Linked DNA regions of Homo sapiens: region 1 is linked to region 2. Evidence: fine-mapped expression QTL. A gene starts in region 2. The other region holds a variant in brackets. All regions are shown on one strand. Distances are between the middles of the regions. Region 1 has its middle 32 kb from the start of FADD. Region 2 holds the start of FADD (Fas associated via death domain).

Region 1 (4,387 bases), 32 kb after region 2:
GCTGTATCTTGAAAGCGACTCTCTTAAAAATTTAAAATTTAAAAATTTTTAATTTTTTGTGTCTCTGTTACAAAAAGAAAACAGTCTATGGCAAAGATTGCTGGTGTCACCCAGTATCTTTTCATCCCTTCTCACTTTACACAAGATCCCCAATTTTTAGCTAAGCAGACAGTCAAGGCTGCATTTCCCAACCTCCCCTGCAGCCAGGTGTGGCCCTTTGACTAAGTTCTGCATATGTGCAGAAATGGAGTGTGGAACTTCCTAAAAACAGCCTTAAAGGAGGGAGAGGATTGTGCCCTTCAGCATCCCTTTATTCCTTCCTTCTGCCTGGAATGCAAGCATGATAGCTGGAGCACAGGCAGCTATATTGGGTCATGAGGAAGCAATGCAGCAGGATAGAAGGATCCTGGGTTCTTAAAGATTACAGAGCCTCCCTGCTAGCCCTAGAAAGCTTACATCAGGGTTGCCTTTGTATGAGAAAAATAAACCCTCATTGAAGTCACTGTGATTTGGAGACTTCAGACACTTACACAAAGCTAACCTTGATTGAAACACAGTATCACTTGGAATAATCAGGAGGTGGCTATGAAAAGGAATGCAATAAAAAAGTGACATTCTGAAACTCGTCATACACTCCACTGCCTTCCAGGCTCTGAAACTGAGGGCTACTCACTTTGTTTAAGAAGACATTAGTCATCACTAGCCCGAGATGAAATCTCACTTTGTTCAGAGGGACTGACCGATTGTTGAAAAGGGAAAGACGTTCTCACCGTGTGACTCAACACTGTTCAGTGCCAAGTTCCTCACCTCACCATTAACTGGAGTCATTGACTGTCTACACCTGCAGGCTGAACGCACCGCCCCAGGATGAAGTGTGAGTCCTCGGCATCCCAGGGAGGTTAGTGTCCTCCTGCGAAGCTCCAGCCTTGGGGAGTGCCTCCACGTCCAGGCTGGAGCCACCTCCCTACTCCCTCTCCCCAGGGCCTGGCACGGTCAGCCATCATGAGTGTCCCAGCTAGAGTCAACCAGCAGATGATGTTTAGTGCCTCTCTGTGCCTTCAGAAATGCTTCCCACCCTCAGGAATTCCAATGCCTGCTTCTCTCTCCTGCTACACTCCTACTCATTGCCCATCTCTGCGTAGATGCCCCAGCGGATCACCGTTCAGTCGACATTTACCAGGCACTCCCTGTTCGGGGGTGAGTGTTGGCTATGGAGTTAGCCGCCAGGAGCCTGCCTCCTGCTGACTGGGCGATCTGGGCAAGTTATTTAGCTTCTCCGCCTCAGTCCTTCCTATCTGTAAAATGGGGATAGGAATGGCACCTTCCTCAAGGGTGTTGGTGAGGGTTAGACCAGTCGATATGCTAAGTGCTTAGAACACATTAACCCCCTGGGACATCTCAGGTGCTGCTGTTGTCTGTCAGGCTAGGAGGCTAAGGGATCTGCTTTCATGGGGGGGATGGAGTGACCTTCTAGAACCTGCTGCAGATAGAGCTTCAGCTTCACCCTCTGTATTAAGCATGCCCCATGGGGGTATGGGTTGGATGGTGGTCGACTTACTTTTTTACTGGCCCTTCTTCCTTATAGCCTGGGGACCTGGGATGTCAGGGAAGCCCATATCCTACTCACCTTTGACTTTTTTTTTTTTTTTTTTTTTTTTTTTTTGCAGTGGGGTCCTGCTCTGTCGCCCAGGCTGGAGTGCAGTGGCGCGATCTCAGCTCACTGCAGCTTTCACCTCCTGGGTTCAAGCGATTCTTCTGCCTCAGCCTCCCAAGTAGCAGGGATTACAAGTGCCTGCCACCACACCCAGCTAATTTTGATGGGTTTTTGTTTGTTTTTGTTTTTTTGAGACAGTCTTGCTCTGCCTCCCAGGCTGGAGTGTAGTGGCGCAATCTCAGCTCACTGCAACCTCTGCCTCCCAGGTTCAAGAGATTCTCCTGCCTCAGCCTCCTGAGTAACTGGGATTACAGGTGCCCGCCACCATGCCCGGCTAATTTTTGTGTTTTTAGTAGAGATGGGATTTCACCATGTTGACCAGGCTGGTCTCGAACTCCTGACCTCTGGTGATCCACTCACCTCGGCCTCCCAAAGTGCTGGAATTACAGGCATGAGCCACCACGCCCAGCTAATTTTTGTATTTTTAGTAGAAACGGGGTTTCACCATGTTGGCCAGGCTGGTCTCAAACTCCTGACCTCAGGCGATCCGCCCACCTCAGCCTCCCAAAGTGCTGGGATTACAGGCATGAGCTACTGTGCCCGGCTGCCTTTGACTTTTATGTACCCACCAGCAGCCTGGGCACACCAGGTACTTAGGAAACAATACTAATAAAGGAATCCCTGTGAGATACAGGCTGGGTGAAGGGACTAAGGCTGAGACGCTAAGGAGGCCCAGCTCCCAGAATAGCAGAATAGTCAGCATACAAGGCCTGGCCTTCCCATCCAAGCCTGGCTGTGTCCCGACTGCTTTCATATGAAACGACTTCAAGGGGCTTTCTTACTGGTATAGACAAAGTCACTGACATGCATTCGTGCATAAGTTCAGGTGCAAAGTGGAGCCCAGACCTTGAAGTCACAGACTGGGGTTAGGTCTAGACTCTCCTATGTATTTGCCAGGTGATCTTGGACAAATGTACTCCAAAGGTACACTCTGAGCCTCATTTTCCTCACC[T/C]GAGAAATGGACTGATGTTCCAATGATCTGTTTCTGCATGACAAATCACCCCAAAACTGAGTGGCTTAAAACCCCAGTAAGTCTCTTGTGTCTCAGGGCTTCTGTGGGTCAGGAATTCAGGAAGGGCCCCACTGGGTGGTTCTGCCTGACGCTCCGGTATGGGCTTCCTCCCAACATGACAGCCTGAGGACAGCTAAATTGCCCACTTGGTGGCCTGTGAGTCACAAACTCACCCAGGTTCAAAATCAGGAGAATTAGACTCCAGACTTTTTGTTTTTGTTTTTGAGACAGGGTCTCGCTCTGTTGTCCAGGCTGGACTGCAGTGCTGCCATCTCGGCTTGTTGCAACCTCCACCTCCCCACATCTGGCTAATTTTTGTATTTTTTGGTAGAGACAGGGTTTCACTATGTTGTCCAGGCTGTAAACTCTAGACTTTGATGGGGCAGTGGAAAGGTGGAAAATTGGAAAGGTGGAAAAGTGGAAGAGTATATGGGACAGGAGACACTGCTGCAATAACCTTTTGGGAGATACAGTCTGCCACAGATGATAGCTCTCACGTCCACTGGGAGGGTTACGGATGTAAAGCAACTGGAATATCTTTTTTTTTTTTTTAAGAGATGGAGTCTTACTCTGTCACCCAGCCTGGAGTGCAGTGGCGCAATCCTGGCTCACTGCAGCCTCGATCTCCTGGGGTCAAGCAATCCTCCTTCCTCAGCCTCCCAGATAGCTGGGACTACAGGCTTGAGCCACCACATCTGGTGCCTGGAATATCTTACCTGCCCATAAGGGATCTCTGTGGTGACCACAGCTGTCATTGCAGGTTGGCTGTCCACATCTGTCCCTTCTCTTCCTATCCCTCCTCGGTGCAAGTCGCACCCTGTTTATGGCCCATAGGAATCAGCTCACAGGAGACAGTTGGACAAGCCAAGAATCCATTGGTCCACTTGGAGTGGCCAACCATTAGGCCAACCATTAGGCAGAGGGCAGTGAATGGGGCACTGAGCCCAGGCCAGGTGAATGGGGGGAGGCACCTGGGACCAGCAGAGGATGTTACATGGGAGCTGGGCATTCAGAAGAGGCCTCTCCATCAAGCCGAGTGAGCCCGTGGGGCCACGCGCCCCCACCTCCTCCAGGAGAGAGGGATCCATCATCAGCATGGGGCCTGGGAACCCTAGCAGCCTATTCCAGATCCTGGCAGAGACCGACCACTTGATTTCATCCCCCTTCCAAAGTAGTGGCACTTAATTAAGAATTTCTAGGTCAGGCATGGTGGCTCACATCCACCATCCCAGCACTCTGGGAAGCTGAGACAGAAGAAAAACTGGAGGCCGGGAGTTCAAGACCAGCCTGGGCAACATAGTGAGACCTGCCCCTGTCTCTACCAAAAAAAAAAAAAAAAAAAAAAAAAAATTTTTTTTTCATGAGCAGAATGTGGTGGCGTGCACCTGTGGTCCCAGTTACTCAGAGGCTGAGGCGAGAGGATCACCTGAGCCCAGAAGTTGGAGGCTGCAGTAAGTTATGATTGTGCCACTCACTGCACTCCAGCTGGGTGACAGAGCACTACTCTGTCTCTAAAAAATAAAATAAAATAAAATAAAATAAAATAAAATAATAAATAAATAATTTGGGAAAAGACTTACTACCTAAGAAATCTTTCTCCTGCACCCCCAGGCCCCTGGTTTACTTTCACATCTCAGGAAATAAGAATCATAAAAAAGTCA
Region 2 (4,356 bases):
GTGAGACCCCATCTCAAAAAAAAAATGTAACTCAAGACCAGACACGGTGGTCACACCTGAAATTCCAGCACTTTGAGAGGCTGAGGCTAGTGGATCACTTGAGCCCAGGAGCTCAAGACCAGCCTGGGGAATATGGCAAAATCCTGTTTCTACAAAAAAAAAAAAAAAAAATGAAAATTAGCCAGGGGTGGTGGTATGTACCTGTAATCCCAACTACTCAGGAGGCTGAAATGGGAGGATCGCTTGAGCCCAGGAGGCTGCAGTGAGCTATGACTGTGCCACTGCACTCTAGCCTGGGTGACAAAGCAAGACCCTGTCTCAATAAATAAATAAACAAAATAAAACTGTAACTCAGTGTTCATAGCAGCATTATTCACAACAGCCAAAAAGTGGAAGCAAAGGCAATGTCCATCCTCCGATGAATGGATAGACACACTGTGGCACCCAAACACCCAGACAGTGGAATAGTATGCATCCATAAAAAGGAAGGAGGCTGGGCACAGTGGCTCACGCCTGTAATCCCAACACTTTGGGAGGGTGAGGCAAGAGGATCACTTGAGGCCAGGAGTTTGAGACCAGGCTGGCCAACATGGCAAAGCCCTGTCTCTACTAAAAATACAAAAATTAGCCTGGCATAGTGGCACACACCTACAATCCCAGCTAGTCAGGAGGCTAAGGCACAAGAAACGAGAGTCGCTTGAGCCCGGGAGGCAGAGGCTGCAATGAGCCGAGATTGTGCCACTGCACTCCAGCCTGGACAAAAGAGTGACACTCTGTCTCAAAGAAAAAAAAGGAATGAAGTACTCATATGTTCTACATCATGGATGAACCTTGAAAATGATGCTGAAAACAGCCAGACACAAAATGCCACATACTGTATGGTTCTGTACACATGGAATGTCCAGAATTGGCAAATCCATAGATTTTAAAAAGTAGATTCGGCAGGGCACAGTGGCTCACGCCTGTAATCCCAGCACTTTGGGAGGCTGAGGCTCACTTGAGGTCAGGAGTTCAAGACCAGCCTGGCCAACATGGTGAAACCCTGTCTCTACTAAAATACAAAAATTAGCTAGGCATGGTGGCAGGCACCTGTAATCCCAGCTACTCAGGAGACTGAAGCAGGAGAATTGTTTGAACCCGGGAGGTAAAGGTTGCAGTGAGCCCAGATCGCACCACTGCACTCCAGCCTGGCCATAGAGCGAGACTCTGTCTCAAAACAGCAAAAAAAAAAAAAAAAAGAAAGAAAGAAAAAAAAAGTAGATTCGTGGTTGGTGGGGGAGGGGAGGAGTACATGCTAATGGGTTTCTTCTTGGGGTGATGAAAATGTCCTAAAGTTAGACAGCAGTAAGGGTTGCACAACCTTGTGACTACACTAAAAACCACTGAAGTATAACTTTAAAAGGGTGAATTGAATGGTATGTGAATTATATCTCAAGAAAACAAACTCAGCTGGCATCAGCCCCTGCCCCACCCTGTGGTAAAGCTGGGTCCTTGTTGGCTGGTGAGGGCTCTCCTAATCTGCACCCCCTCCTCACCTCCAGACCCACGGCATTGCTGCTCCTGGAACCCCAGCCGTCCCCTGTGCTCTGCTCTTCTGTTCTCCGTGTGCCCAGCTCTTCCCCCCACACCTAGGTACCCGGCCCCTCCCAGCCTTCACCTGCGCCTTTACAGAGGCCCCATCAGACCACCGGGCCCCCCACCCTCCACACGCCCACCCCGTGAAGAGACTCCCTTTCCCCTGGCTCTTCTGAATTTCTGGCATACTATACGATTTCCTTATTTTTCCTTATTTTTATTTTTTAATAGAGACGGGGTCTCACTATGTTACCCAGGCTGGTCTCGAACCCCTTGTCTCAATCAATCCTGCCTCAGCCTCCCAAAGTGCGGGCATTGCAGGCTGAGCCACCACGGCCGCCACGACCTTCTCTTCTGGAGCGTGTCGCTTTTGTAATTATGATGTAAACTCCGGGCACGCGGGGACCCTCGCGCTTCGCTCACTAATTTGTCCCCAGACCCTACTACCTGGCACAGTAGGCGCTCAATACTGTTGATTGAATAAACGACTGCTACTTTGGAAATCATGTATTATTTAAATCACATGTTTAAACGCACATAAACTTCTGAGTAGTGTTTTCTGCACACACAAGATGTCTCCAGGGGCACCAAAGAATGCATTTTCCACGTTTGTCCCTAAACGTTAATGCATAAGTAACCTTGGTCACCAACAGATGTGAGGGCACGTGACGTTCGGGCTGCGCCCTCCCCGCCCCGGCCCTGCACACAGTAGGGCCGCACCGCGCTTTGCAAACAGGTGGACTCGGCAGAGGCGCGACCGCCCTCACCGCAGAGAGCTGGGCCACCTGCAGGCTCTCAGGACACCCAAGGCCCCACCTCCCACCCGGAAAAGAGACGATACGCCGGGCGCAGGCGCAGAAGCCGCGCCCGTCCGCGGCGCCGCCAGCCAGGGCGGAAACGGCTGCGGCTTCGCTAGGGACGCATGCGCGGGTCCCTTAGTTTTCGCGAGATAACGGTCGAAAACGCGCTCTTGTCGATTTCCTGTAGTGAATCAGGCACCGGAGTGCAGGTTCGGGGGTGGAATCCTTGGGCCGCTGGGCAAGCGGCGAGACCTGGCCAGGGCCAGCGAGCCGAGGACAGAGGGCGCACGGAGGGCCGGGCCGCAGCCCCGGCCGCTTGCAGACCCCGCCATGGACCCGTTCCTGGTGCTGCTGCACTCGGTGTCGTCCAGCCTGTCGAGCAGCGAGCTGACCGAGCTCAAGTTCCTATGCCTCGGGCGCGTGGGCAAGCGCAAGCTGGAGCGCGTGCAGAGCGGCCTAGACCTCTTCTCCATGCTGCTGGAGCAGAACGACCTGGAGCCCGGGCACACCGAGCTCCTGCGCGAGCTGCTCGCCTCCCTGCGGCGCCACGACCTGCTGCGGCGCGTCGACGACTTCGAGGCGGGGGCGGCGGCCGGGGCCGCGCCTGGGGAAGAAGGTGGGCGCGGGGCCGGGCCGGGGGAGCCAGGGCCTGGTCGCCCGGCTGTAGGTGCTGCGAGGCTCCTCCGGTTGGCCTCCAGGCGCCTCCCCTTTGCCGGGTTTGATTTGCGTGGGTTTTCTCCGTACAGCCCTGGTTTTGCAGATGGGAGAGCCAGAAACGCAGAAAAGTTAACTTATTCGAGGTTGCAGGGCGTGGACACGCACAGTCCTTTTTCCTCCACCCACTTCTGCCCGGGTAAATTAGAAAACTCACTGAAGAAAAGATGAGTCAGAGAAGGTGTGGGGGAGGGGCAGAGGTTGGGTGAGCCTGCCTCGCATCATTTCCTTTCTGTCTCGGAATATGCTTTTCACGGCTGTCTGAGAGTAATACTAGCATTCAGTAACTCCTACCCAGGGGCTTACAGTGTGCCGCTTACCCTTGTAACTGCCAAATACAATTTTCGCAGTAGCCCTGTGGCTTAGATACTGTTAGCTATCACTGTTCCCATTTTACAGAGGACAGGACTGTGGCTCACAGGTTAAGTGGCTTTGTCGAAATGCGCAGCCGATAACTGACGGAGCTAGGCTTGAGCCAAGCAGTCCGGCCTCCGGATGGGTAGTGTTAGCCACTACACTGCCTCTCTGGTCAAGTTCATTGTGGAGTGGCTTCCTGTCCTGCTCTCGGTCACTCCCTCTCCACCCTCGCCTGTGGATTGCAGCAGCTTCCAGGATAAAAAAGAAACCCTGAGTACAGCAGAGTTTCTCAGCCCTACCCCCCTTGTTCTCAGAGTCGGGAGAGGCTTGGGAGTGCTCTGGGGACGCCTCTCAGAGGCTTCAAGCTGTAGCTTGGAATCAGCCATTCAGTCACCAATCAGATAGGGCCTAAATGTGTCACCATGGGTTTCACTCTGTAAAGACTGGTGCCTGTTGGGGACAGGATGGACAGAACAGCTCTCTGCCTGAGAGCAGTCAAGTCCAGATTTTAAAAAAAATCAGTACTGAACAAACAAAACAGGACGTAGAAAAATCGGGTTTTATGGATATTTAATGTCTGGAAAAACACTGATAAATTGCATTTTAAAGGCGGTCTACGAAACATAGCTGACATTTGAGATGTATGTGTGCTTGGTTTTATTTATATCGTCATGTAGTTACTGTGTGCTGGGAAAAGTACACCAGAAGGTGAGCGGTGGGTATGGACAGGTTGGTAGCGGGCGACTCTGCCTTCCTCCCCAGAAGTTCAGCATAGCGGTTAAGGGTCGACTCTGGCACCACACTCTTAGGGTTTCAGAACATGGCTCTGCCATCGTCTAGCTACACGATCTCAGGAATGTCCATTAGCTTCCCTGTGCCTCAATTTCCTCATCTGTACAGTCATGGTAAC

Evidence for each region. PIP is the estimated chance that this variant, and not a neighbour inherited with it, causes the effect.
Region 1: its variant is the best candidate, but not a certain one, in a credible set for the expression of FADD in whole blood (INTERVAL, PIP 0.67).

What each region holds. Positions count from the first base shown.
Region 1 is chr11:70,232,893-70,237,279 of GRCh38, forward strand. No RefSeq gene overlaps it. Among named protein-coding and RNA genes, the nearest start is that of FADD, 32 kb to the left of the region's middle. The variant T/C (reference allele first, on the strand shown) is at 2,667.
Region 2 is chr11:70,200,755-70,205,110 of GRCh38, forward strand. It overlaps FADD (Fas associated via death domain), which reads left to right and starts at 2,542. Exons shown (of 2, transcript NM_003824.4): 1 at 2,542-2,991. The coding sequence starts at 2,706. RefSeq lists silencers at 2,952-3,031, 3,081-3,272.